Homo sapiens: one gene and its partners. The protein of the gene in region 4 interacts with the protein of the main gene of each other region in a pairwise test. Each region holds a gene or a part of one and is shown on either strand. Other genes may lie near its edges.

Region 1 (3,500 bases), on a different chromosome or scaffold from region 4:
TCGAACTCCTGACCTTGTGATCCGCCCGCCTTGGCCTCCCAAAGTGCTGAGATTACAGGAGTGAGCCACCGTGCCTGGCCCCGGGGTACCAGGTTTTAATAATATACTGCTCCTTTTATACTTGCAATTATTGCGTCAGTAGGTCATCCAGTTTGGGCATTTTTCATTAACAGGAATGACCTTGCATGGGCTCTTTCAAGCTCTCCCCAACAGATTGCTCTTGTGCCCAAGCAGGATCATTTCCAAGAATTGCGGGGACAAAGTCGCAAATGCTTTCAACTCTCCACCACTACCTATATAACTCCTTTCTGTAAATCCTCCCTCCTAGGGTCATCTTTTTAGAGCTGTATCAATCTGGTGGGGAGAAATAAAGGGTGGAGATACACTATTAGTTTCCTTCTCGAGAGGCAGTGCAGTACTGGGAAAAGCAAGCTCTTTGAGTTCAGGAAGTAGAGCCCAACTTTTGGTCCCAGTACTCAATGGCTGTGTGATAACAAGAGACATTATATATACCTTTAGAGTCTTAATTTCACCATCTATAAAATGGGTTACTGTCCTGATTATGGGAAAAAAGCAGCCTGTAAATAATAAATGTTGATTTCCTTCTACCTTTCAACTCTCCCCCTAAGTCAATATTTAAACACCAACACCATCTCTGGCAAAACAGAGAACAGAGATCTGGGACTGCGGAGAGAAGAAAAAGAGAAAGCAGACAGACAAAGCAATTAGGATGTGGGGCTGGCATGCCTGACTCATTTAATTCCATATATTTGTTATATCAACAATCATGACTTAATGGTATGTTAGAAGCTTTGAAGTTTTGCAATATTTTTCTACTTGACAAGTAGCTGTGATTTTTACCTCACCAAATGCTCCTCTGCCTATTACTTTTAAGGACTCAAAATCTTCCAATCCAAGTCTTGTTCTCTTCAAACGAAGAAACTCTGTTTCCTTCCGAGCATGTGCTGATCTCCGGAGTCGTTTCTAATATTTAAATAAAAAAGGGAGGAGACGGGAAGGAACTGAAATTCTGAAACTCTGTAACAAGTCATGTTTGTGACTTACCCAGCTAGAAAACAGGTCCAAGTGGACTAAGGATAATCTTTTCACATATGAAATCACCCCAGAAGGATCCTTAAGAGGTCACTTCTCCCTTTCCTGGCATTTAGACACAACATCCAAGCCACACTGAACAGATGGGTGCCTCCTCTGGGAACTCTGACTAACCTACTTCAGCAATCCACTATCCTAACATTTTTGGTGAAGGGAGGGATAAATAATCAACAATATTTTCCTTTATCCTGTTTAATATAAATTAAAAATGTGTTCTTATCTTTCCCTCTGGCTTAAACACTGTATACTCTAACTTTCTGTTATTTCTACAAGTATTGGGTATTTTTCACCACCGTCCTGGGTTCTGCAAGCCAGTCCTATTTTTGAAGGCATTTCCACTACCATTTCAGTTCCTTGCACAGTCCCTTGTTAACTATATTTTCTCCTACTGTATCTGTGGGCACTGGGTGGAAGGGCTGATTTGAGATGGATATTTTGCCTTAATAAAGATTTCAGGAACATGACACACCGGGGCCTGTCGGGGCATGGGGGGAAAGGGAGGGAGAGCATTAGGACAAATACCTCATGCATGCGGAGCTTAAAACCTAGATGACAGGTTGATAGGTGCAGCAAACCACTATGGCACATATATACCTATGTAATAAACCTGCATGTTCAGCACACGTATGTATCCCAGAAAAAGTAAAATAAATAAATATTTCAAAAATTTGCCCTACTCCTACGGAGACTTTTCAGTGAATTCTATAAAAATGCTACAACTTGCTCTTTTAAAATTTAATTTGATTTCATCCCTGCTTTCTCTTGGAATTCTAAATCTAGTTTACTATAACTGCATCTAGAGAAGCCTTCCTCTCCTAGGTACTTAATAATTAATCTGTCCCTCTGAATTAACACCCAAATCCGGAAGCACACTACCCCTCAAGTTCCTCTGTTATTGAGCCAAAACCCTTCTCATGTGTACCAAGGCTAACAACTCACTGGACAAGATACAACCTGCCACGCTGGGTTTTAAGGAAAACATTGCCAATATTAATTACCTCCTCATCTTTTAGGCCTTCTTCTTCCATCACCTTTTCTAACTTCTTTTGTCTAAAACAAACAAAAACAAAAGACATGAAATCACATCTGAATGATAACTTTCTGAAAATTCTGTAACTTAATACTGTAGTAGATTTTTAAAAATGACACAAACAGGTAAATCTCAAAATGTCTCATTAAAACAAAAAAAATTAAGTTACTAAGACAAGTAAAAAGATTTCCATCCTTTGTTAGGCCTACTTTTTTTTGGCGGGGGGAGGGGGGCAGGTTGCGAGGAGAGGAGACAGAGTTTTGTTCTGTCACCCAGGCTAGAATGCAGTGGCGCAATCTCAGCTCACTGAAATCTCCACCTCACAGGCTCAAGCAATCCCACCTCAGCCTCCCAAGTAGCTAGGACTACAGGCGCGTGCCACCATACCTGGCTAATTTTTAAATTTTTTGTAGAAATGAGGTCTCATTATATTGCCCAGGCTGGTCTCAAACTCCAGCCTGACCTTCCAAAGTGTTGCGATTACAGGTGTGAGCCACCATGCCCCGCCCTTAGGTCTACATTTTTTAAAAGACTGTCTAAGATGTTAATGCAACAAAGACTCTTGTTTCAAAAAAATGTCCTCTCTTGGTTTTGGGTGTTTTTTTTTTTTTTTTTTTCCAGTTATTTCCTCCTTACCAAACCACAAAACAGCTGGTATTTGATAAACTCTTATATCATGCTGTTTCTTTCCCTCTCTCTGACTGAAGTCTACTTCCTTTATTTCTGCATCTTCCTCCTCTTCCCTGCCATGAGGAAAGGGTAACAAACAACAAAGTTAAAAGCAGAATTTGGAAATTTAAGGGGAAAAAGTGATCAAAAAGGTGACTGGCACCACTATCAAAACTCCATATATCAGGCTGGGTGTGGTAGCTCACGCCTGTGATCCCAGCACTTTGGGAGGTGAGGCAGATGGGTCACTTGAGGTCAGGAGTCCAAGACCAGCCTGGCCAACATGGTGAAACCCCATCTCTACTAAAAATATAAAAATTAGGCCAGGTGCAGTGGCTCACGCCTGTAACCCCAACACTTTGGGAGGCCGAGGCGGGTGGATCACTTGATGTCAGGAGTTCGAGACCAGACTGGCCAACATGGTGAAACCTGGTCTGTACTAAAAATGCAAAAATTAGCCAGGCATGGTGGCATACCCTGTAATCCCAGCTACTTGGGAAGCTGAGACAGGAGAATCACTTGAACCCAGGAGGTGGAGGCTGCAGTGAGCAGAGATCACACCACTCACTGCACTCCAGCCTGGGTGACAGAGTGAGACCCTGTCTCAAAAAAAACAAAAAGGCCGGGCGTGGTGGCTCACGCCTGTAATCCCAGCACTTTGGGAGGCTGAGGAGGGTGGATCATAAAT
Region 2 (3,500 bases), on a different chromosome or scaffold from region 4:
GTTTTCCTGTTAGTGCCTTAGTTCTTCCTTTGAAGTACATGTTATATTCATCCCCCTTTCCCGCTTTTTTTCCATTGTCACAATCTTGATCCAAACATTCATTTTAAACCTGTGTTTGATTCTTTCTTGGCCCTTGCTCAGCTTTTTACATTATACTGTGAGACAAATTTGAAAATATATTCATTGTAAGACTTACTAAAATCTACGGAAATTCTTGGTTGCTTTCTAAAGCTTTCCATAGAAATTCAAATTCATTAGATGATTCCAGAATTGTGTTTTCTGTATTCATTCCTTGAAGACATTTATAGGCCACTGTGCAAGGTGCTGGGGATACCTAGGTGAGCAAAAGAGTCTTACAGCACCAAAGATTAATGAAGTCCTCTTTAGGAAAGCTATGCTTAAGCTAAGAAGTGAAAGATGAGTTACCTGAGTAATGGATTAAACACTCTTCTTTCTGTTTGTGGAGAAGTAATTAGGAGAGGTGGCGGCAAGAGTGGAAATAAAACCAATTTATACAGCATTATCTGAAGTGCTTGAAATTAGTAGAATGACGGAAACATACATATCATTCCATTGATTCCACTATCTCAGGTATTCAGTGAAAATGGTATGCTTCAGTTTTTTCACGATAGGGAGCTAGTGTATTTTCCATTTATACAGAGTTAATGAGCTAGATTTATATTGTATGGGTTCATAGAACATACCAATGTCTTTGTTGTCAGCAGACTATTTTGCTGCCTCTTAAAATAATTTTATTTACATACTTTTGAAAAATTAACTACTAGAGTTATAGTTCACTTTCTAATTTTACTATATTTTTGAGCTTTCCATATTTGTCATATTACTTTTCAGTTTTTTCCTATGTAAATTATTTCCAATTTAGATCCCACGTATGTTTAAAAATATTTTTATTAACTTCCAAGTATTTTGAAGTTTTCACTAGTACAAAGTATAATGAAGAAAAGATGCTATATTAGTGTGGGTTTTTTTCAGAAAGTGAAATTTTAAAAATATTTTTTTAAATATGATAGGCAAATTTTAAGTTACAAGTCCTAATTTTTATAAAATATTTTTATTATAAATCTATTTAATATTTTGCTGATGAATGAAGTCCCTAAGTCTGGAAATCACCGGCCTTATTGTACTGATACTGCTCTGGAGTATGTGACCAGTTAGATTGTATTACTCTTGATCAACACATACCTCTTTAATTTTCAATGGGAGACTTTTTCAAAATATGTCAACTCACTTTTCCTAAAACTAGCTCATTTTCTTTAATTCCAGTCTCTCCTTTAAGCTTATGTCAGAGACCTGCCAATTGAATTGTATACATTGGTTGTGACATGAGAGAATAGTGGTTTGCTAATCTCAACTACTTTTTAATAGAATCATTTAATTTCAAAATTTACTGGCTACTTCAGAGAACCTGTGTGACTTTTACCTATGTGTTAAAACCAATTAAACCAGGGCCAAAGGATGGCCTTTATTGTGTTATTGTGTTTGTCTGTGTAATTAGGAATTTTCCAAGCTCTAATAAGGCCTGCTACATTTTAAAGTAGCAAAATTTCAGAATATCAGAAGATTTCAGACTATTTGCAGTTGGTAAACAGTGGAATTTAATGCTTGGTTGTTACTGAGCCCACCCTTCCCAGAAGAATTACGATTAACTGTAGAGGAAAGTCCTTTAAAACTTGGTTATAGCAGAAGTTTGAGATGTTTTCCACCAATACTTTCTATGAATTAAATAAGTCATGTAGGGCAATTTGGAATTGAAAAGAGCTAGAAGTACAGCCATATGACGTTACAACTAAGTTCTCTGTATTTTCTGTGGTGATTTCTAATATGCTTTCTAAAGACTAGTAATTTATTAGATGGGTAGGCAGCCATTGTTGATTAGATGTTTTTTGTTGTCTGGAGATTTGGGCATGATGTGTTTATTATTTAAATCAATTGTCATAGGGTAACAATTTGTGCCCTCTTTTTTAAGGATATGGTGGTGGTTTTAATGAAAGAGAAAATGTTGAATATATAGAAAGAGAAGAATCTGATGGTGAATATGATGAGGTAAGCTATATTTTGGTGTTCAGGTTGAATATAAATTAGAAAAACAGAAAAAATTCTTAAATGCAAAGGAAAACAAACTTTTTTTTAAGTGCAATTTGAGTCTTCAGCAACTGATCATTTTCAGGAAATCATAAATATCTAAAATAATTTTTTAGAAAATGTATTAAGTTTAATGCATTATCAGCTGACAAGCATTTTGAAATTGTTTTTCTCTAGTTTGGACGTAAAAAGAAAAAATACAGAGGGAAAGCAGTTGGTCCTGCATCTATATTAAAGGAAGTTGAAGATAAAGAATCAGAGGGAGAAGAAGAGGATGAGGATGAAGATCTTTCTAAATATAAGTTAGATGAGGTGAACAATTTTCTTGTCCTATTTCCCTTTTGTCTTATTGGAGTTATACCATAACATGAATGCTTTTGACAGCCTCAGACACTTGGTGAAAATATATTCTGTGTTTTCATTTGTTCTCACAAAGGTTTTGGATTTCCACTCTGCCAAGTACTATTTGTACTTGGAACACTACTGTTCTGGAGATACAGTGGTGACCGAAACAGAACCAGTTTTCTCTTACACAGTTCTAGAGGAGGAAATATATAAATAGGTAATTTTGATAGCAGTAACGTTATGAAGACACATGATGTGATAACAGTTTAAAAGCAACTTTGGTTTTGCCGATGGATAATGTCTAAGGAGGTGAAGTTTGAGCTGAAACTTGAATGATAGGAAGGAGCCAGCAATAAGAGCCGAGGTGAGAGCACATTTAGGCAGAGAACAGCAAATACGGGTTCCCTAAATAGGAGATAAGCCAGCAGCCTTCAAAAATACCATACATAGGCCAGTATAGTTAGAGCAGAGGGGAGAATGAGATGAGGGGGACAGCACACATTTCAGGTCTGGTGATACTTGTTCTGTCAGGCCAGAGTGTAAGTTTTATGCCATGTTAAGGGTACCTTAGAGCCTGATCATAAGAGGTCTTGGAATGCAACTAAAGAAATAATAAGCCAGTTTTGAAGTTTTTAAGAAAAAAGTGAGATGTGTTTATCTGTCCTGTGTTTCAGAGTGATGACTGTCAGTATATTGAGATACTAGAGAGGCAGAATGGATCTTCAGATTTGAGGAGACCAGCTAAGAGGTTACTATAATATGCTAGAGAATAAGGAACAGAGTGTCTAAGACTAAAAATGGTGATTTCAAGGACTTTTAAGGAGGTGGACTTGAAAATTCTTGGGTGATGCATAAGTGTGACAGAAAAAGTGTGTATGGCCTCCAGGTTTATGTCTGTGCAATACCTGAGACAAAGTTGTCAAGTCTCTATTTGAGATGAGTTTAGTAGGTGAATTTTAGAATTCAGAATTAATTTGCTGAGATACCTGTGATATATGCATATGGAGGTGCTCAGTACACCTAACTGTTTTATCTTTCCTGGTAGGTAACAC
Region 3 (3,500 bases), on a different chromosome or scaffold from region 4:
CATTCACTTAAAGGGATCTTTTACTGCAAATTACATGGAAAGAATGAAAAGGTTTGCTTGTGTGTAATGACACATTTTATTCTGAAGATTTATTTTACCTAACAGTAAAATGTAGGTTTTTTTTTTTTAAATAAAAGTTTCCCAGAGGGAAATTTCATCTAAAAAAAAAGTCTGATTTCAAAGGGAAAGCAAGTCATTATCAAAAATTAGAAAACTATAAGTACAAAAAGTAAAAAATCATCAGTAATTTTGCCACTAAGATATTATTACTATAGACATTTTGGTGTATTCCATCTGTTCTTTTTTAATGCTTTTATAACACTATGTAGTTTTGTATTTTAAAAAACTTAAAGCAAAAATTTCTACGTATTATTAGACATACTGTGATTTATTTAACTAATCATTTTTTTGGGGTGTTAGGTTGTTTTTAATTTTTTACTGCCATCAAACATCTTGAACATAGGATGTAGATTTTAGTCTTTAAAATATGTTGGGGAATGAACAAATTTCACATCCTGTATTTGTAGTATTAATACTTTGTAGGTGCTCAAAATAGAATATTCTGGTAAATGATTAGTGCTTATTAAATATTTATCAAATGAATGTACTTGTACTTTTGGCATTAAACATTAACATCTGACCATTTATATTTACCTGATTTTTTTTCTATGGCCATATGGTATGAAATAGTGTATGGTATAAATTAACCATATGGTATAATAAATACATTTTTTTAAGTGTGATACCAGAGTGATATTTATTAACTGTTCTTCCTGTGCTGTTTCTGTAGAAGGGAGCTTCTCACAATTGCATTAGAATTACAATTTTATTATGTTCTGTTTTCAAGATCTCTGATCGTCAGTCTTAAACTGTTTAATTATAATAATGTATTGACTAGGGAATATTCTGGGATATAATCTCCTTTATAATGAGGTCCACTGTATTAAAATACATCTTTGCAAGCCACACCAGGTTGGATTGCATCATAACCCTGAAAAGTGGTATTCTCATTAATGCAGGTGCTTGTGCAGTTTTGGCTATTGCTGTTAATACTTATACAGATATATTCACAGGTGCCCTTGTGGCAAAAATCATAAAATAGTTGTTTGTCTTTGGTATTTCTAGTGTTCACTTTCTATATTCTTTTCTCTCTCCTTATTTACTGAACTCCCTTCTTTAGGCATCCACTCACTCCTTTTTCTGTTTAGAATATTATCTGTCAGTCATTTTATATGTTGGCCATTAAAGGAATAAACTGTCAGTAAACAGCTAAGAAAGGAATGTTGGACTGGGTGCTTGAATCCTTGAATGTAGTAAATGTGAGTGCAAACTTGATTTAATTGTACATGTATTTGGATAATAGGCCAGAAAAATTACATTAGGGTAACAGGCTAGAACAGTCTGACTTTTCTTGTTTTTCTATCCCTTGCTTTCTTGATTAGAATGAATAGGAGGTGGGTCTGGATATAGCAGCTGGAAACCTGTGTTCCATGAGTGATGGGGAAGAGAGGGAGGGAATAGGTTCCTCTGATTTTTGGCATTTTCTAAGACCTGATGCCCACCTTGTCAGAGAATGCGATGACTACTTTTGTGTTCTTCCTTTTCCCTTTTTCTCCCAATTATAAAATTGTTTTCTCTTTCAGAACTGCAGAAGTGCATTTTGTTTCTTTGACACTTTGATGTTGTTAATTTAGCTGAATACCTAGTGAACATTTTGTGTCATAATCCCCTTGTTTTATGAAATCCAGTATGGTCTAGTCACCTTACATTTCTGCCTCATATTGTCCTTAAGCCTTTTTTTGTCAGTAGCTCTTACTAGATTTTGTCTTCATCAGAAGTTAAAGTGTTTTAAGTCCTTTACTCATTCTGTTTCTCTATTTTAACTTACATTGGTTATTCTGTAAAGTCAGATGTGGCAGTAGGGCTGGTCGTGGTGGCTCACACCTGTAGTCCCAGCTACTTGGGAAGCTGAGATGGGAGCATCACTTGAGCCCTGAAGTTCGAGGCTGCAGTGAGCCATGATCGCACCACTGCACTCTAGCCTGGCAACAGAGTGAGACCCTGCCTCAAAACAAACAAACAAACAAACAAAAAAAAAACAAAAAAACTTGCTTGTAGAACTTCTGAATTCAAAATAGGTGGGCCTATTTGGGAGCTTTTCTGTTTTTAAGGTGTCAAGTACTGCTTTTTAAAATCATAAGGTTATGGATAACTTCATGTTAGTGTAAGAAGAAAAATATAGCCTCATTTGTTCCATTTCTTTCTTAAATTTTTTGTTTTCATTGCCATGTTTTTATTTTTCGATTTCAATTTTTCCAGCCTAAATCACTAACATACTTAATTAGCATGGTAATCAGAAGATACTCTTTAATACAGTCTCCACCCTAACATTAAGCAATTATTTTTCCCCCCTACCCTCTGAGATTATTTTTGTGTCCATGTTTTCTCTTGGGCTTAAAAAAAAAAACTATTATTCTAATTCCTTCCTGTATCAAGACTATGCATATAGAGGGAACTCAATGCCCAGTAACTTCTTTTTCTGGGCCCTGGTGATGTAGAATATAAAAATTGCTTTGAACTCAATTAACTTTATATCTTCTGGAAGCTCTGTAACATCGGATAAAGCGTCGTTTTCATTCTTGTAATGTAGCTGCAGTTCCTGACAGCACGTTTGGGACAAATGTACTGTGGGACGGTGGTTTTCAAAGTACGCCAGAGCTCTAGGAGAATTTTTCGAAAACATTCTATCATTGTAAATAATAATTTTTTTTTTTTTTTTTTTTGAGACGGAGTCTCGCTCTGTCTCGCAGACTGGAGTGCAGTGGCGCGATCTCAGCTCACTGCAAGCTCTGCCTCCCGGGTTCACGCCTTTCTGCCTTTCTCCTGCCTCAGCCTCCCCAGTAGCTGGGACTACAGGCGCCTGCCACCACGCCCAGCTAATTTTTTGTATTTTTAGTAGAGACGGGGTTTCACCGTGTTGGCCAGGATGGTCTCAATCTCCTGACCTCGTGATCTGCCCGCCTCAGCCTCCCAAAGTGCTGGGATTACAGGCGTGAGCCACCACACCTGGCCAGAATAAAAATTCCAAATTGCACTAATGCATATGTGAAACTGTTTTTGTCTGTTTTGTAGTTTTAAAATCTTCATCTATAATAGTACCTGGCACATAGGTACTAAAATATTTGGTGAAAGAATTAGTGAATAAAACCTTACTGGATATGAGGTGATCTGATTTTCTGTAACATTCTATTCTTTTTTTCTGCCGGTCACAAAATCACCTTATGAAATTGACAGCCAAATTGGCTGCAACAGGCAGTTTGAAAAACACTGTTTTGGGGTTTCAAGGACCTTCTTCAGAGGTTACCCCAGGGCTCTGTTTAGTGCCTCTATACCAGGGGCCCCCAACCCCTGGGCCACAGCCTCGTATCTACCAGTCCGTGACCTGTTAGGAACCTGACTACACCGCAGGAGGTGAGTGGCAGGCAAGTGAGCATTACCGC
Region 4 (3,500 bases):
CATGCCACTGCACTCCAGCCTGGATGAGAGAGTGAGACCCTGTCTGAAAAAATAAAAAAAAAAAATACCTGGACAGGACTAATCACAGGGCAGGAGTATGATGGTTGCTGCAAGGTGCTCTGGGAACAATCATATATTCATTCAACAAATGTTGATGAGTGCCTTCTGAGTGCCCAGGGCCTGGGGATTCAGCAAGGAAGGAGTCTACTCTGTCCTCCAGGGATTTAGAGCAGAGCAGGTGGTCATAACGCAGGATGACATGTGTTGTGGGAGGCTTAAGGAGAAGTCCCCAACCCAGGCCCAGGCAGGGAGCATGGTACAGGAAGCTCTCCTGGAAAGGAGGTGGCGTTGGAACTACTGAGCTTCATCTGGAAGGATGAATAGGCCAAGGGGGCGGGATTGGGAATGATATTTCTGGCCAAGGGTGCAGAATGTGCAGTGGCTTGGAGGCAGGAAGCAAGGCGTGCAGCCTGGGGCCTGGGCTGGGGATGATAGTGAGCCTTAAGAGGTAAACACAGACCGGTCACCAGCAGTCTGGGAATGTCAGGCTAAGGAGAGAGCATTTTCTCCTGAAGTGGATGGTGATTCAGAGAAGAGTGTGAGGCAGCAGAGGGCTGGAAGCAGATGTTTTCATTTCAGAGAGATGTCTTTGGCAGCGCCAAGTAGGGTGGATGGGAAGAGCAGGCCTAGAAGCAGGAAGACCAGTGAGGAGGCTGGGGAGAAACCTGAGAACTAAGGCTGTGAGCTCTGAACTTAGGCTGCAGAGAGGATAGAGTTGAGAAATATGAATGTGAATAGGAGGTGGAGTCCATCAACCTTGCTGGTCGATTGGACCTTTGCCAGGTATCTGGTGTGTGTTAGAATTACACGCATAATCTCAATGAATTCAACTGTAATCTAGTAGTGTAGTCATTGTTGTCCCCATTTTGCAGATGAGGAAACAGACTAGAAGAGATTAAGTATTTGTTCACTGCCATTCAGCCAGCAAGCATAAGAACCCAGGCCTATTGACCCACAAAGCCCTCTCTGCTACTCGACGCTTTTGCCCAAGAGAGGGGGCCTTGTCTGGCTCACAGTTGGCCTCCCCAGCAGCTCCCAGCCTCAAGTTGTGCGTCCTTTCTGGGCCTTGCCGTTTCCACTTACTCAACAGACAACATGAAGGATCAGATTTAGACAACAGGAGGGACTTCCTGAGAGGCAGTGGTAGGGAATGGAATTTCCTTTCCTGCAGATGAACTCCTCTTTTTTCAGAGAAAGGAGGGTGATGAGGACATGTAATCACCAGCTCTCTGTGAACTTTGGCTGTCATTTCTCTTGGTGGTTAAGCCCTGTGTGACCCATCTTGGCTGGAACATGGGGAAGTCCTGTGGCTTTGGCCAGGGCTGCTCATGGGGCCGCTGGGAGTGGTAGCATCAAGTCTGGCCCACTGTCTCTGATCCCTGATTCCAGGCCGGCCTCTGGGCTTCAGACTTCTCCACTGCTCTCTTCCTTCCAAGTTTGGGCCTCCTTGCCTGAGGCTGACGCCTCCCGTTGGCATGGGTCCAGAGGTCCTGAGTTGTGGGCTTGCCACTTCCAGGGCTTCTGACACTTTGGGTTGGTGGCAGTAGAACAGCAGGCTGGGAGTCAGCACACCCCAAGTGAGGTCCTGGCCTCTACACAGCCATGCTCCGCTACTGCCAGAGTGCCCGCGCCTACCATCTGGCTGAGGCCTGCATGGCTGGGAGCAGCTTGGTGAGGGAGCCAGGGCAGTCTGTTATAGGCTGGACGTAGTGGGGCTTCTGCATAGAAGGGTCTGGATCCTGGGGTAAGAATCAAGGTGCGAGGCAGGGCTTTGGAAATGTGGATGAATGACATCGCATAGGGAGGAGGTATAGAGTATGAAGAGAGGATGATTAGGGACAGCCAGGGCCTTGGAGAGCACCAGTGCCTGGGTATGGAGAGAAGAGGGAGGAAACTGACGGAAGGCCATATTCTTGGAGCCAAAGAAGCAGGGACAGACCCACAGAGGATGAGCTGGAGCGAGACCCCTCAGATTCAGCCAGAAGGCATTAGCTGGTGGCATGGGTTTTGGTGGAGTGGTGAGGGCAAAACTAGGCTACAGCGGGCAGAGAGGAGTGGGAGGGGACCCTGCTTTTCTACATGCCTGGAGCAAGGCTTGAGCCTCTTGGAGGAAGGGCGTGAGGCCCTGGGCTGGGAGCAAGCAGTATGGCGGCAGGCAGTGAAGACTGGGTATGGGAACCTAGGGGTTTTATCTCATCCACCCCCTCCCTCTGCCTTATGTCCAGAGGCAGAAGACCACTGCCCTGTGCTCTCCTTTCAGGCTCAGGCTGAGGGGTTGTGAAGTGTGAGCTGGTCCTGGGGAAGACATGTAATGTGCTGGCTCCAGAAAGGAGGGGCTTCTGACTCAGGTGGGGGACTTGGAGGAAGGCTTCTTTGAAGAGGTGACCCCGGAGCTGGGTGCTGGAGTATGAGAAAGACTTAGGCAGGAGTAAGGTGTTCTAGACAGAAGAAAGAGCCTAGGCCAAGGTGCAGATACTGGCTGCAGGTGTGGGAGTGTGAGGGGTGAGGCTGTGGAGGAAGGGACAGCCTTGGCCAGCAGGTCTTGGATGCTGGAGGGGGTGGTTTCAAGGTACTTTCTTATTCATTCATACCTCAGGCTGAGTGAGCTCCCCATTTGGTAAGCAGCTTGTGGTTCAGGGCTATTTCTGTTTCTCAGTTGATGCTTCCTTACCCACGCTGGGTCTGCTTCCCCAGGAGATGCCTGGCAGAGGTTTGCTGAACTGGACTGAAAATTTTTTTCCCTTCTTGCCTCTGCTATCGGTCCAGGGACTCCCTAAGTGCTGAAATTAGGCCTTTCCCATTAGTGAATCGTAAGACTGAAAGCGATATTTCCCACATTAGGCAAGTTCTCAAAAGAGAGGGGTGGGGTCCTGACTCCTCCATCAGACTGGGAAGTCCTGAGGGACAGGGTTATACCACTCCTATTAGCATGGGGCGCCTGAGCGGGAGGCCTGGGGCTCCCTCATCTGATTGGCTTTTGCAGGTGGGAGCCATGTCTCCCTCCTCAGACTGGAGGCTTCTGAAGGAAGGATGTCTCCTCCATCACACCGGGGGCTCCTGAGGTTGGGGCCTTGTCTCCCATGTGAGCCCTGGGATTAGAACAGGTATCGTCTCAGATGGTCCCTGGGCACCCTGTGTTCTTCCCTCCTATGTGGACAGGATGGTTCCTGTCCCAGGGGTGGCTTGAGTCCTAGTAGGGGGTTGGAGAACAGAGGGGGTTGGCAGGACAGGGTGGCTGCTTTTGAGAGGGTAACAAAGGACTCTGTTGTCCCAGCCCCCTCCCGCCTTCCCTAAGGGGCCCTGGCAGGGTCATCTCTCGGGAGACGCGCCTCCTCCTTCCTGGGACTGGCCCCATCTTTAGCCCCACTTCAGAAGAACTGCTTGTTCCTTCCCAGGAGACCTGGTGCCAGATGAAGCCCCTGGGAGTTGGACAAGACAGG
Region 5 (3,500 bases), on a different chromosome or scaffold from region 4:
AAGGTTTTCTATCAACTTGGGAAGATAGTAGTTCTCCCCAAACTATATATAATATTCAGATAGCCTCGGTCAAGACAGGATGCAAAACTCACCTAGTATCCCAGTACATCCTCAGTTTCAGTAAACATCAGAATCCTTATGTAGCTCATGTAGGTTCTGAAGAATTTTTTTTTCTCTTAATAACCTTTTCATATCCAAAACTTTTCAGGAAATTAATTCCCCCAACTGTTGGTGATTGGTAAGGATCTCACAGATATCACTGGCAGAATTTTTCATGCCCAAATGAATTCAGGTGTACCTGCTGAAGAACTAGATTGCTAGCGAACCATACTTTGAACTCAAAGTAAGTTCAGGGATCTTTCTAATGTAATGCAGAATGCAAAAATGGAACTTATATATATAGTTTTATATTGGGAGTTAAGGGAAAAGAAAGTCATATTTCTAAATTTATGCTAAAGAGGTTCTAATAATTTTCTATTTCAACCCACTTTTAAAATCTGATGCAATTTTTTTTTTCTGAAGAGGTATTTCTTCATTTATCTGTGATGATTTTTCTTTTCTTTTTATGAGGCGGAGTCTCGCTCTGTCGCCCAGGCTGGAGTGCAGTGGCGCGATCTTGGCTCACTGCAAGGTCCACCTCCCGGGTTCATGCCATTCTCCCGCCTCAGCCTCCCGAGTAGCTGGGACTACAGGCGCCTGCCACCATGCCCGGCTAATTTTTTATATTTTTTATGAGAGACGGGGTTTCACCGTGTTAGCCAGGATGGTCTCGATCTCCTGACCTCGTGATCCACCTGCCTTGGCCTCCTTAAGTTGTGATGATTTTTCTAATAATGAAAAGTAGGACCATGGTCAATATCTTCAGTAGTAGCACTAGGCTGATGATCTTTATGTAACAACAATAATATCCTACAAATGCATAGCATGTTGGTGTTTATCAGTGTGGAACATACAGGTGGACAGGGTCAAAGCACACAACAAACATGTTATCAACCAAAAATGTAACAAGGGACAGTGTGTGTGTGTGTGTGTGTGTGTGTGTGCGCGCGCACATGTAAGTACTGATGAGAACAAAGCATTCAGCACATTGTCTGGCCCATGAATTGTAAGTTCTTGGCAAAGCTTATCCAACAGCAGCAGTTTAGTATCAACTACCAGTCGTCAGATAAGTAGATTATGTCTGGTTGATAGTTCAGTTATCAGTCTGGCAGTTGTAACTAGGACTGTTGCTTTGCTGGGACCTAAAACTTTATCAGTATTTTGTAGATTTTCTTTGGCAAAGTACTCACAAAAGTTTACCTGTCTGTGTCCAGGTTGGTTGATTGCTTCTAGGATAAACTTACTAGAAGGAGGGGCTTCAGGGAAGGTGGGATTTGAGTATTCACAGATCACTCTGTAGGGGATACCATTTATAGAACCTGTTGTGAAATTCAGTCCAGCTCTCCTTTTCCATCATGACCTTGAGAAATTGTACTCACCCAACAAATCTCATCAATATGCGGTATGATGATCAGCCTCTTTCCACGTCGATTGCAGTGGGGCACAGACTTAAGCCAAGATTTATTTTACTGCTTGACACAGCGTATTTCTTTCCCATGTAACCCAATTAATTTCAGTCTTCATGATTCCTTTAATAAGACTAAGAATTCTTTCTAAAAATAAAAATGGAACCATAATAACCCTCTATCACCCGATGTCATAAATGGTGATTTTATGTTTTTAGTGTAATTGAACAATAGGATGTGGGTGTTGGAGATTTCAATTATGTTAGCACAACTTTATGCATCCGTTTGATTGATTTGCTTTTAAAATGTGATTGTAAAATATTCCCTTGTCTCACAGGCAAGACTCGGAAAGCTAGCCTCCTATCTGCCAAGTCATCCACCGAGCCCAGCTTGAAGTCTTTTAGCAGAAACCAGTTGGGCAATTACCCAACATTGCCTTTAATGAAATCAGGGGATGCACTGAAGCAGGGACAGGAGGAGGGCAGGCTGGGTGGTGGCCTTGCCCCAGACACGTCCAAGAGCTGTGACCCACCTGGTGTGACTGGTTTGAATAAAAACCGAAGAAGCCTCCCAGTTTCCATCTGCCGGAGCTGTGAGACCCTGGAGGGCCCCCAGACTGTGGACACTTGGCCCCGATCCCATTCCCTGGATGACCTTCAAGTGGAGCCTGGTGCTGAGCAAGACGTGCCTACCGAGGTGACAGAACCGCCCCCTCAGATTGTACCTGAAGTGCCACAGAAGACGACCGCCTCTTCCACGAAGGCCCAGCCCCTGGAGCAAGACTCTGCTGTCGACAATGCATTGCTACTGACCCAAAGCAAGAGATTTTCTGAACCTCAGAAATTGACAACTAAGAAACTGGAGGGCTCAATCGCAGCCTCTGGTCGCGGCCTGTCACCCCCTCAGTGTTTGCCCAGAAACTATGATGCTCAGCCTCCTGGAGCTAAACACGGTTTAGCAAGGACGCCTCTGGAGGGCCACAGAAAAGGACACGAGTTTGAAGGAACACACCATCCCCTGGGCACCAAAGAAGGGGTAGATGCTGAGCAGAGAATGCAGCCCAAAATTCCATCACAGCCTCCACCTGTTCCTGCCAAAAAGAGCAGAGAACGCCTTGCTAACGGACTCCACCCTGTTCCCATGGGCCCCAGTGGGGCCCTCCCCAGTCCCGATGCGCCATGCCTGCCAGTGAAAAGGGGCAGCCCCGCCAGCCCCACCAGCCCTAGCGACTGTCCCCCAGCACTGGCTCCCAGGCCTCTCTCAGGGCAGGCGCCTGGCAGCCCACCAAGCACAAGGCCGCCCCCCTGGCTCTCAGAGCTCCCCGAGAACACAAGCCTCCAGGAGCACGGTGTGAAGCTGGGCCCGGCTTTGACCAGGAAGGTCTCCTGTGCCCGGGGAGTGGATCTAGAAACGCTCACTGAAAACAAGCTGCACGCTGAAGGCATCGATCTCACGGAGGAGCCGTATTCTGATAAGGTATCAAAGGTCCTGGGCCCACCACGTTCACAGGCCTTTGTTTGTAGAAGTCAGGCAGCCAGGTGAGATGAACCCACATCTGAAGCCAGCCCGGTAGCCCGCCCAGTGGACAGGAGACACCTGAATCCACGTGTCCACACCTTACTTGACATGCATGTGTTCAGATATTGACACCACCCCATTTCATCTCTCCGTAGGTAAACCGAGGTTAAAAATAACCTGCATGAAGACCTCTTAGAGGGATTACTAGGAGCAAATAAAATAAATGTGGACAAAAGAACCCTATTCAGATGTGATAATTGTATTATACAGTTATCTGTATGGGTAATGGGAAAAAGATAATATAAAATCCCCCATTGTACCAAAAACATTTAGCTGTATAATGAAAAATTATTTCTCATTCAAAAAAAATGAGATCTACCAATACCAAGTGACTCCAAAGACAAAGCAATGCTAACAGATACAGCAGTACTTTACTCCTGGAAATACAGGTCCTATTAGGATGCATTCCTGAGAGTC
Region 6 (4,222 bases), on a different chromosome or scaffold from region 4:
GACTAGTCTGGAACAAGTTTCAAGGTGTTTACTGAGATTTTGAAAGGCTTCTCGACAGGAGCCGTAACTTTTAGTAGCCGGCAGAAATCCATTCCCGTGACCAAGGTTATTGAGGGAACGAGTGTCCGAATCACGCCCCTTTAGTTTTGCCCGAATATTCGAATTTTCCGTGGTCCCCGCGGAGCGAGATCCTGGGCGCACCGCAGGGGAACTGTGACGCACGGGGACAGAGATCCGCGGTGTGGAGGGCGAGGGGGGAGGCCTGAGAGGGATGGGGTCGAAACGAGAACCCCAGAAGGGCATGGGAAAGGAGAAAGACCGAGAGGAATCCTGACTGAGGCAGGGATCGCCGGTCAGCCAGAGGCTTCTTGGTTTAGCCGCGTGACACCTCCGCACCTTTCCCGCGGCTGCGGCGCAGCTCCTTCAGCCTTCCTGACTGCCCCGTGCCGCTCAGTAGAGAATGCCGAGCATCCCGAGAGGGAGAGGCGTCAGAGCCTCTCGTCCTGAGTTTCCTTGAGAAGCGGGGACCCAAGAGAAGAGCTTTATTGCCTGTTTTACTTTTTCCCAAAGCGTCCCTTGGCTTCCGCCGCCTGGCTGCCGGCAGCTGGAAAGGAGACGAGCTCCCGCTCCCGTTCGCCCCCAAACTGAGGACCGAGTGGCCACCAATGCCTTCCCTAGGTCCCAGGGTGCAGACCCGCTCCCCACTTCCAGAGTCGGGCGCAGGGTACATCTCTTTATGGAGAGTGCAAGACCTGGACCGGACTGAGCGGCTACTCGCAGCTGCCGCTAAGGGAGCCAAGAGGCTCCTGGCGAGAAAGGGAGCGGGGTTAAGTTCCCTAGGGATTAGGGACCCAGATTGGGGGTGGGAGCTCCCAGCAGTAGTCCCCTGTTCCCCGCGGGACACAGAAGGCTCTAGACAGGCAAGGGCATGGGGCGTGGGATGGACCTCACAAGGATACTTGCAGAGGCAAGCATCTAGCGTTCAAGGGGCCACCGGCTATCCCCTATACCCTGCTGGGGGCTGTGGACTGGCTTGGTCTAGCACTGGATCCTATGAAAGACTCTGTGCTCCGGCTCTGCAATCTACATCTCTTTGCCAGGTGTTTGCACTGGAGGAGAGAGGGAGAAGAACTTGCTAGAAACGAATGCACAGGGGCTGGTGGAGGGGGTGTGGGGTGGACTCCGAGCTAGTCATGATGCTTGCAAGGTACCTGGGAGATTGAGAGGCAGGGCAGGCTGGCTAGAGAGGAAGTACATACAAGGCAGTCGGAAGCAAGATGACACCTCAATGTGGATTTGTCCAATAAGAGGGGGTAGCCAAGGGGGGGGTATTCAGGGAGGTCTGATTGGTCGGGGGGAGGGATTTGGGGTGGGGCTAGCCGCCTCTTGAGGCTTTAAAAGCTCATCGGAGAGGGGCGGGATGCTGTCATTTGCTCTCTGACTCTCAGAGAGGGAGGCACGCTTTCCTGGAGCTCCTGGTGACAGAACAGGTGTTTGCTGTCTGGACCTGGCTGCTGATCCTGAGCCTGCTGGGAGATCTTAACGATCCCCAGGAGCAACATGGGGCCCACCCTAGCGGTTCCCACCCCCTATGGCTGTATTGGCTGTAAGCTACCCCAGCCAGAATACCCACCGGCTCTAATCATCTTTATGTTCTGCGCGATGGTTATCACCATCGTTGTAGACCTAATCGGCAACTCCATGGTCATTTTGGCTGTGACGAAGAACAAGAAGCTCCGGAATTCTGGTAAGCCACCCCTTCTTCTCCCTACCCAGTGTGCAGAGACTTGCAACCCCTAGGGCGTTAGTTTTTGAGCTCCCCGAATAGAGAATCTATGGACAGTGCCCTCATATTGAACATCCCTGCTCCCAAATTCCCCGCAAGCCTGGGGGTGGTAGTATTCTGTCCCGGCCCTCTAAACGTGGAGGTTCTCAAGGCCGAGAGAGCACAGAGAATTAGCTTTGGGCATCCAAGTACAAAGCGTTCCCGTGGTGCGCGGCAGCCCGAGGATCCCTGTCCCGTCGGGGCCTGATGCGGAGGGAGCCGGCACCCGAGCGGGAGAGTCAGGCGATTCGCCCGGGGACAGCAAGCCGAGCCGGACGCCGCAAGGGCGGCCGCGCTGAGGCAGCGCGGACCGAACTGACGCGGAGGGAGCAGCGGGGCTGCGACCTGCTCTGTGAAAGTTAAGTTCGCGGCGGCCGCGGCGGCCCTTACCAGAGCGCAACGCAGTGGCCTCTCCCTAGCCGGGCCAAGAGCCCGCTCGCCGCGGCCCTGGGGCTCCAGGACGGCTCCCGGGCAGATCCCGGGCGGCGGAGCACAGACCCCCGCGCCCGAGAATCGAGCAGGGAGGTCTGAGCCCGCCGGAGCCGAGCTCCGTCCGCCCGTCCCAGGGCGAACGGCAGAGAGAGGCAAGCGGCGGGTCGGGCACAGCAGGCGGTGGCAGCGACGGCGGCGGCAGCGGAGATCCCAAGGTCCGTAAGCGGGGAACTGGGGGGTCGCAGGGCGGGCCGGCCAAGAGGCTTGGGAGCTGGGCGTTGCTGGGGGTGGAGGGATAGAAGGCAGCAAAACCGAGTAGGGATTGGCGGGAGGGCGACGGGAGAGCTCAGAGGCGGCGATGGGGGACTCAGAGAGGCTGCAAAGGGCTGGGGTCTGGGAGCCGCAGGCGGGACTTCCCCCGCTGCTAGCCACTGCCGAGCGGGAGGAGGCCGGGGGCCGGGGGCCGGCGGCGAGCAGGGCAGGAGGGAAGCGTGGGAGGATGCCGGGCGCTGCGACCTGTGCTGGGGGTGGGGGCGGCAGACACTGCAGAGCAGCTAGTCCGGCTTACAGGTTGGGCGGGAGAGGGCTCTGGAAGGGAGGGGAAGGGGCAAAGGCGCCCAAACTCCGAGTTCAGGCCGGGGGAGGGAGGGGCGGCGCCTGGAATTTCCACCGCCAGATTCTCGATCGGCTGGGGCTAGGAGTGGGGACCGAAGGGGGTCTGAGAGGGTGGGGAGACCAGCTGGATTCTCCCGGGCAGGGCGTGGGGGAGAGGTGGCGGCCGGGGTCTGGGGGATTACTTTGCTTGGGCAAGGAGTCACGAACACTGAACAAGTTTAAAAACGCACTGACTGGCACACAGTCATTAAAAGTTTTCTTACAAAGTCTGGTGGGTGTCTCCGATTTCTCCTTCGTCTCCTGGAATCGTGGGGCCATACACTAGGTCTTCACCTTCACCCCCGCGGTGCGGTCCCGAGGTGCAAACCCACGGAATCCTGGGGGCGACCTGCGAAGCCCATTTTATTCCCTTTAGATTTCTTTTCTTTCTTTTTCTCCTTCTCCTTCCTTCCTTCTATAATTCAAATAAAGGCTTTTATGGTTGTTGTGGTTTTGTTTTTAAGGCTTTGCCCCTTCTCTTTTCGGCTGTATTTCCCTGAATTCATTACTCTGCCGGAAAACCATAGAAAGAACCTCTTCGGTAGAAAGTGCTGAGGCCGAGTGCTGACAGCGCTGGAGGAAGGAGGAAGAAGGAGCCATACCTTTGCCCTTTTCAAAAGCGCTCATTTTCTCCTAGTCCAAGATGAAGTGCAATATTTTGCCAAACCAATGCTAATTAGCAACGAGGTGTCTCCAAAGAAAGAGGGCTCTGCGCCTGCACCTGGCCTCTTCCTTCTCTTTTTTGTGAAAGGTTTTACAAAAAAGTTCCCACCTCAGCCCTACAAGACCGGAGTGGGGGTGACCCTTCTTCTCTATCCTGTTTAACCTGAAGGCTCCAGTAAAGTTCAGTGCCCGGCGCTGGGAGCTCTGTGCAGGGCGCTGAATGTGCCAGTGCGCGGCTCTGCGCGTGGACGTGGACGCGGCATGTAACTGAAACAGGCACTTCTGCTAATCCTTGCAGGATTTTTTCTCCTCCCCCCCACCCCCGCCCACCTCGCGCCACCCTTCCCGCCCGCCCTCTCACTACTTCTTTGGTCTCAGACTAAATTTTACAGGGCTTCCCTGCTTCCCCTCAGTTTTCACTCTTAGGTTACCTCGGAACGGTAAGTATTTGACTTGGCAAGGTTTTAGGTTACTGCTTGATCCCATCGGAAAAGACTGTTTAAGAAGATGGCCTCTAATGCCTTTTCTCAGAATCTTCTCTCTAGTAATGTGTTTATTATAAATGCAATGCTAGGCTATAGGAGGGAGATGGCTAATTTATCTTTTTCTAATTATTTAATTATTTTTAATTTTTTTAGTTTGAGGCTT
Region 7 (3,500 bases), on a different chromosome or scaffold from region 4:
TTGCAGTGAGCTGATCACGCCACTGCACTACAGCCTGGGTGATAGACTGAGACTCTATCTCAAAAAAAAAACAAGATCAAGAGAGAAACTGGTCCTTTTTTGGACAGAGAGGACCCTGCTACTCCTCCAGCGCCCTGAAGCTGCGGGTGTTCTCTCCCCATTTCCCCAACGCCATTCTCTCTCCCGGCCCTCCTCTGCCCAGGCTCTCAATCTTGTTCTTTAAGGACAAGTAAGCAAATCAAGGGGCTTGGGAAGCTTTGCTGGAGGATTTAAAGCCATTTCCTCCGGCAAAGCTGTGTTCAGACGGGCCCAGCGGCTCTCATGGACATGGCTCCTGTCCTGACTTTGCCGCTTGACCTACTTCCTCCATTTAGGAGGGACGCAGAAGGCAGGAAGCCCAGAACTGTGGAGCAACCGCAGGCGCAAGGATGGGTGGACATGGTATGAACCTCAGCTCCCCCAAGACTCATGCTGGGGCCCTGGCGGTTATGAGATTTTCCTCATCTGAGAGATGAAATGACAATCCCCACCCACGGGACTGTTGAGAGGCTCCATGTGCTCCTTGCATGACCCAGTACACAGCAGGCGCTCAATGCATGCTCGTTTTTCTTTTCCTTTGCAGTTCACAGTGAACTTTCATCAATAGGAGTCCACCTGGTTCTCTCTGTAACCCAGTGAGTTGAGTGCTGTTTCCCTCGTTCACAGAAGAGGGGAGAGAAGGGACTGGCCCGGGCACCCCGTCCAGATGCAGAGACCACCTCCCGAGATGCAGGTTTGACCCCACGGGTTGTCAGCTCACCTGCACCTTCTTCAGAGCCACTGTCTTCCTGTCCAGCAGGCAGGTGGCCTTGTACACCTCGCTGAACTGTCCTCGGCCTATCTTCTTTTCGATCTGGAAGTCCGCCAGCGAGCAGCGAAAAGACAGCGTGTTGGGATGCCTCTGGAACGGGGGACAGAGGGCCTCCGTGAGCAGCCAGGCTGCAGCAGAGGCCTGGGGACGACCCCTAGAGGCCCAGCACCCCAACAGCACCCTCTAAGGTGAAGGAGGGACTCTGCTGCCAACCCTGCTCTGGGAGCCTCCCAGGCACCCCCCCAGGGGGCTTTCTGCACAGGGTCCCCTGGGTCCCCTCAAGGACCCCCAGTGCAGGTGAAAAACTGAGGCTGTTCATGCTCCCCACTGCCCTCATCACCACCTTCATTGTCTGACTGCTTGTTTGTTTGCTGTCTCTGAGTCCCATCCCTGGGGGCTAGCTCCGTGGGACCACGGGCGTTGCCCGTCTCATCCTCTCCTGAATCCTTGATGCCCAAACTGGGGTCCGGTAAGCCGGGTGCAGCTCATGTATCCCCAGCCCGTGGCCACCATGCAAAATGCCCCAGGTCATCATAAGAAATGGCAAGTTCCCTTCCTGGGGCAGCCGTTCCCCATCTCAGACAAGAAAACCAAGGTTAATATTCATAGCCTTGGCCAGGTGTGGTGGCTCACGCCTGTAATCCCAGCATTTTGGGAGCTGAGGCGGGAGTTCGAGAGGTCAGGAGTTCGAGACCAGCCTGGCCAACATGGCGAAACCCTGTCTCCACTAAAAATATAAAAATTAGCTGGGTGTGGTGGCCCATGCCTATAATTCCAGCTACTCAGGAGGCTGAGGCATGAGAATCGCTTGAACCCAGGAGGCAGAGGTTGCAGTGAGCAGAGATCATGCCACTGCACTCCAGCCTGGGTGATGGAGACTCTGTCCCCCTCTCAAAAAAATGTGCAGCCTTACACCCTGAGCCCATCCTTTAGATAAACTGCCTTTTTTAGGGTGTCGTGAAGAAACCAGAGCTCCACAAAGACTCTGCAGGGGCCAGCATTGGAACACATGATCCTGCGCTAGGACCTGCCCAGGGATGGAGCCTCCAGGTGAGACCACAGTGGCCAGGAGGACCCCAGGACACCTGTGCAGTGAGCTCTCAGGAAAAGGCAGGAGGGGGCGCCAACAGTGGGCCAGGGAAGGAGGAGACAGACAAGGGGAGAGGATGCCACATCTCTGGCCTGCCCTATGGTGAGATGGGCCCGGCTGTGTCTCCATTTGCCTGATGAGGAAACTGAGGCCCAGAGGGGCCAGCCATGCCCACATCACCCAGCTCCATGCCACCGCCCCTAGTGAAGCCAGAACAAGCAGTTCAACTTTCTAGCATGAAGTGGGTCTTTGGTGAGGGTCACACTGAGCCGGGCACCGTACCGAGGCGTCTTTAGGAGCCAGCACCCTGGCGGAAGGCATCAAGACCAAACCGAGAACTACAGGACTGGCCCTTCTGACAGCTGCTTCCCCACCTGGAAACACCAGGAACTGCTGGCCGGACCAGCTGCGTCTCAGCCTGAGATGCCTGCGGAGCAGGGGCACGTCTCCTGGGCAGGTCTAAGCTGGGTCCATCAACTTCTCCTCTGTCCTTCTCCCAGAGTGCCTGAGGGGAACCTGGTTATGTGGTGATCCCTACTCTGGGACCCTGAATCATGACTTAATGAATAATAGAAACTCACTGGAAAAGCAGGGAAAAAAGTAAAGTGAAAATGTCTCTTCTAGGCCAGGCGCAGTGGCTCACGCCTGTAATCCCAGCACTGTGGGAGGCCGAGGCGGGCGATCACTTAAGGTCAGGAGTTTGAGACCAGCCTGGCCAAAAAATTTTTGTAAAAACACAAAAATTAGCCGGGTGTGGTGGTGGGTGCCTGTAAATCCCAGCCATTTGGGAGGCCGAGGCAGGAGAATTGCTTGAACCTGGGAGGCGGAGGTTGCAGTTGGCCTAGATCGTGCTACTGCACTCCAGCCTGGGTGACGGTGAGACTCCATCTCAAAAAAAAGAAAATGTCTCTTCCAGATTTGGCTGAGGGAACTCTACAGAACACCCTCCTGCGGGAGTGAGTGATGGGAGTCCAGGCCTCACAGCACACAGCAAGGTGAGGGCTGGGCCAACCTTGACTTTGAAGCCTCGAGGCCTAATTACCTCTCATGGTGGGTCCTGCCAGAGGACCCGATCTGGAGGGCTGCTGGAGGAGGAAGATGATGATTTTATCCACCATGTGCCAATGTCTGTCGGGTAAATACACCTGTACACAGAGCACCCACCTAAGAAGAGCAGGCATCCTGAGTGTCTACTGCATGCTGGGCTCTGTGCAGACACCGCCCACGCGCCCACTCTTTGGGTCCTCAGAACAACCCTGTGAGTGGGCCTCACTGCTGTCCCCATTTCAGGAATCTGAGGCTTGGAGGGGTAGCAGTGACCTGTTCTGATCAGGCAGCAAAGAACAGCAGAGCTGGGGTGTGACCCCAGGACTGGGGACTGTGGTGCCCAAGCTCTTGCTCCGTATCGGGTGGGCTCTCAGCTCAGATCCCTCCTCGGCTTTTCACTCAAGACCCCCTGACCGGCCAGGCCTGCCACTTCCTGCTCCAGCCTCCATTCTTTCAGTCACCTGAGCCCTGCCCCAGGCCCCGCCCCAGGACCCGCCACCGGCCTCTTCAAAA

Evidence for each region.
Region 1: the proteins of ARRB1 (region 4) and STK38 interact in binary tests that used the Homo sapiens proteins (3 or more experiments, as listed by UniProt).
Region 2: the proteins of ARRB1 (region 4) and ZRANB2 interact in binary tests that used the Homo sapiens proteins (3 or more experiments, as listed by UniProt).
Region 3: the proteins of ARRB1 (region 4) and BRAF interact in a protein complementation assay, tested with the Homo sapiens proteins (one large-scale study listed by IntAct).
Region 5: the proteins of ARRB1 (region 4) and SASH1 interact in a two-hybrid assay, tested with the Homo sapiens proteins (one large-scale study listed by BioGRID).
Region 6: the proteins of ARRB1 (region 4) and GPR50 come close enough for resonance energy transfer, tested with the Homo sapiens proteins (one study listed by BioGRID).
Region 7: the proteins of ARRB1 (region 4) and NEK6 interact in a two-hybrid assay, tested with the Homo sapiens proteins (one large-scale study listed by BioGRID and IntAct).

The regions. Positions count from the first base shown.
Region 1 is NC_000006.12:36,523,480-36,526,979, forward strand, and holds part of STK38 (serine/threonine-protein kinase 38), read right to left. Parts: intron 2,164-3,500; coding exon 2,112-2,163; intron 985-2,111; coding exon 862-984; intron 1-861. UniProt on the Homo sapiens protein: Serine/threonine-protein kinase that acts as a negative regulator of MAP3K1/2 signaling. Converts MAP3K2 from its phosphorylated form to its non-phosphorylated form and inhibits autophosphorylation of MAP3K2.
Region 2 is NC_000001.11:71,071,036-71,074,535, reverse strand, and holds part of ZRANB2 (zinc finger Ran-binding domain-containing protein 2), read left to right. Parts: intron 1-1,987; coding exon 1,988-2,064; intron 2,065-2,280; coding exon 2,281-2,415; intron 2,416-3,500. UniProt on the Homo sapiens protein: Splice factor required for alternative splicing of TRA2B/SFRS10 transcripts. Binds to ssRNA containing the consensus sequence 5'-AGGUAA-3'. May interfere with constitutive 5'-splice site selection.
Region 3 is NC_000007.14:140,918,430-140,921,929, reverse strand, and holds part of BRAF (serine/threonine-protein kinase B-raf), read left to right. Parts: intron 1-3,500. UniProt on the Homo sapiens protein: Protein kinase involved in the transduction of mitogenic signals from the cell membrane to the nucleus. Phosphorylates MAP2K1, and thereby activates the MAP kinase signal transduction pathway. Phosphorylates PFKFB2.
Region 4 is NC_000011.10:75,345,162-75,348,661, reverse strand, and holds part of ARRB1 (beta-arrestin-1), read left to right. Parts: intron 1-3,500. UniProt on the Homo sapiens protein: Functions in regulating agonist-mediated G-protein coupled receptor (GPCR) signaling by mediating both receptor desensitization and resensitization processes.
Region 5 is NC_000006.12:148,541,838-148,545,337, forward strand, and holds part of SASH1 (SAM and SH3 domain-containing protein 1), read left to right. Parts: intron 1-1,842; coding exon 1,843-2,981; intron 2,982-3,500. UniProt on the Homo sapiens protein: Is a positive regulator of NF-kappa-B signaling downstream of TLR4 activation. It acts as a scaffold molecule to assemble a molecular complex that includes TRAF6, MAP3K7, CHUK and IKBKB, thereby facilitating NF-kappa-B signaling activation.
Region 6 is NC_000023.11:151,175,162-151,179,383, forward strand, and holds the start of GPR50 (melatonin-related receptor), read left to right. Parts: upstream 1-1,422; 5' UTR 1,423-1,560; coding exon 1,561-1,747; intron 1,748-2,215; exon of another isoform or gene 2,216-2,675; intron 2,676-4,222. UniProt on the Homo sapiens protein: G protein-coupled receptor that plays a role in numerous physiological processes including regulation of energy metabolism, neurite outgrowth or cell migration.
Region 7 is NC_000009.12:124,309,949-124,313,448, reverse strand, and holds part of NEK6 (serine/threonine-protein kinase Nek6), read right to left. Parts: intron 941-3,500; coding exon 800-940; intron 1-799. UniProt on the Homo sapiens protein: Protein kinase which plays an important role in mitotic cell cycle progression. Required for chromosome segregation at metaphase-anaphase transition, robust mitotic spindle formation and cytokinesis.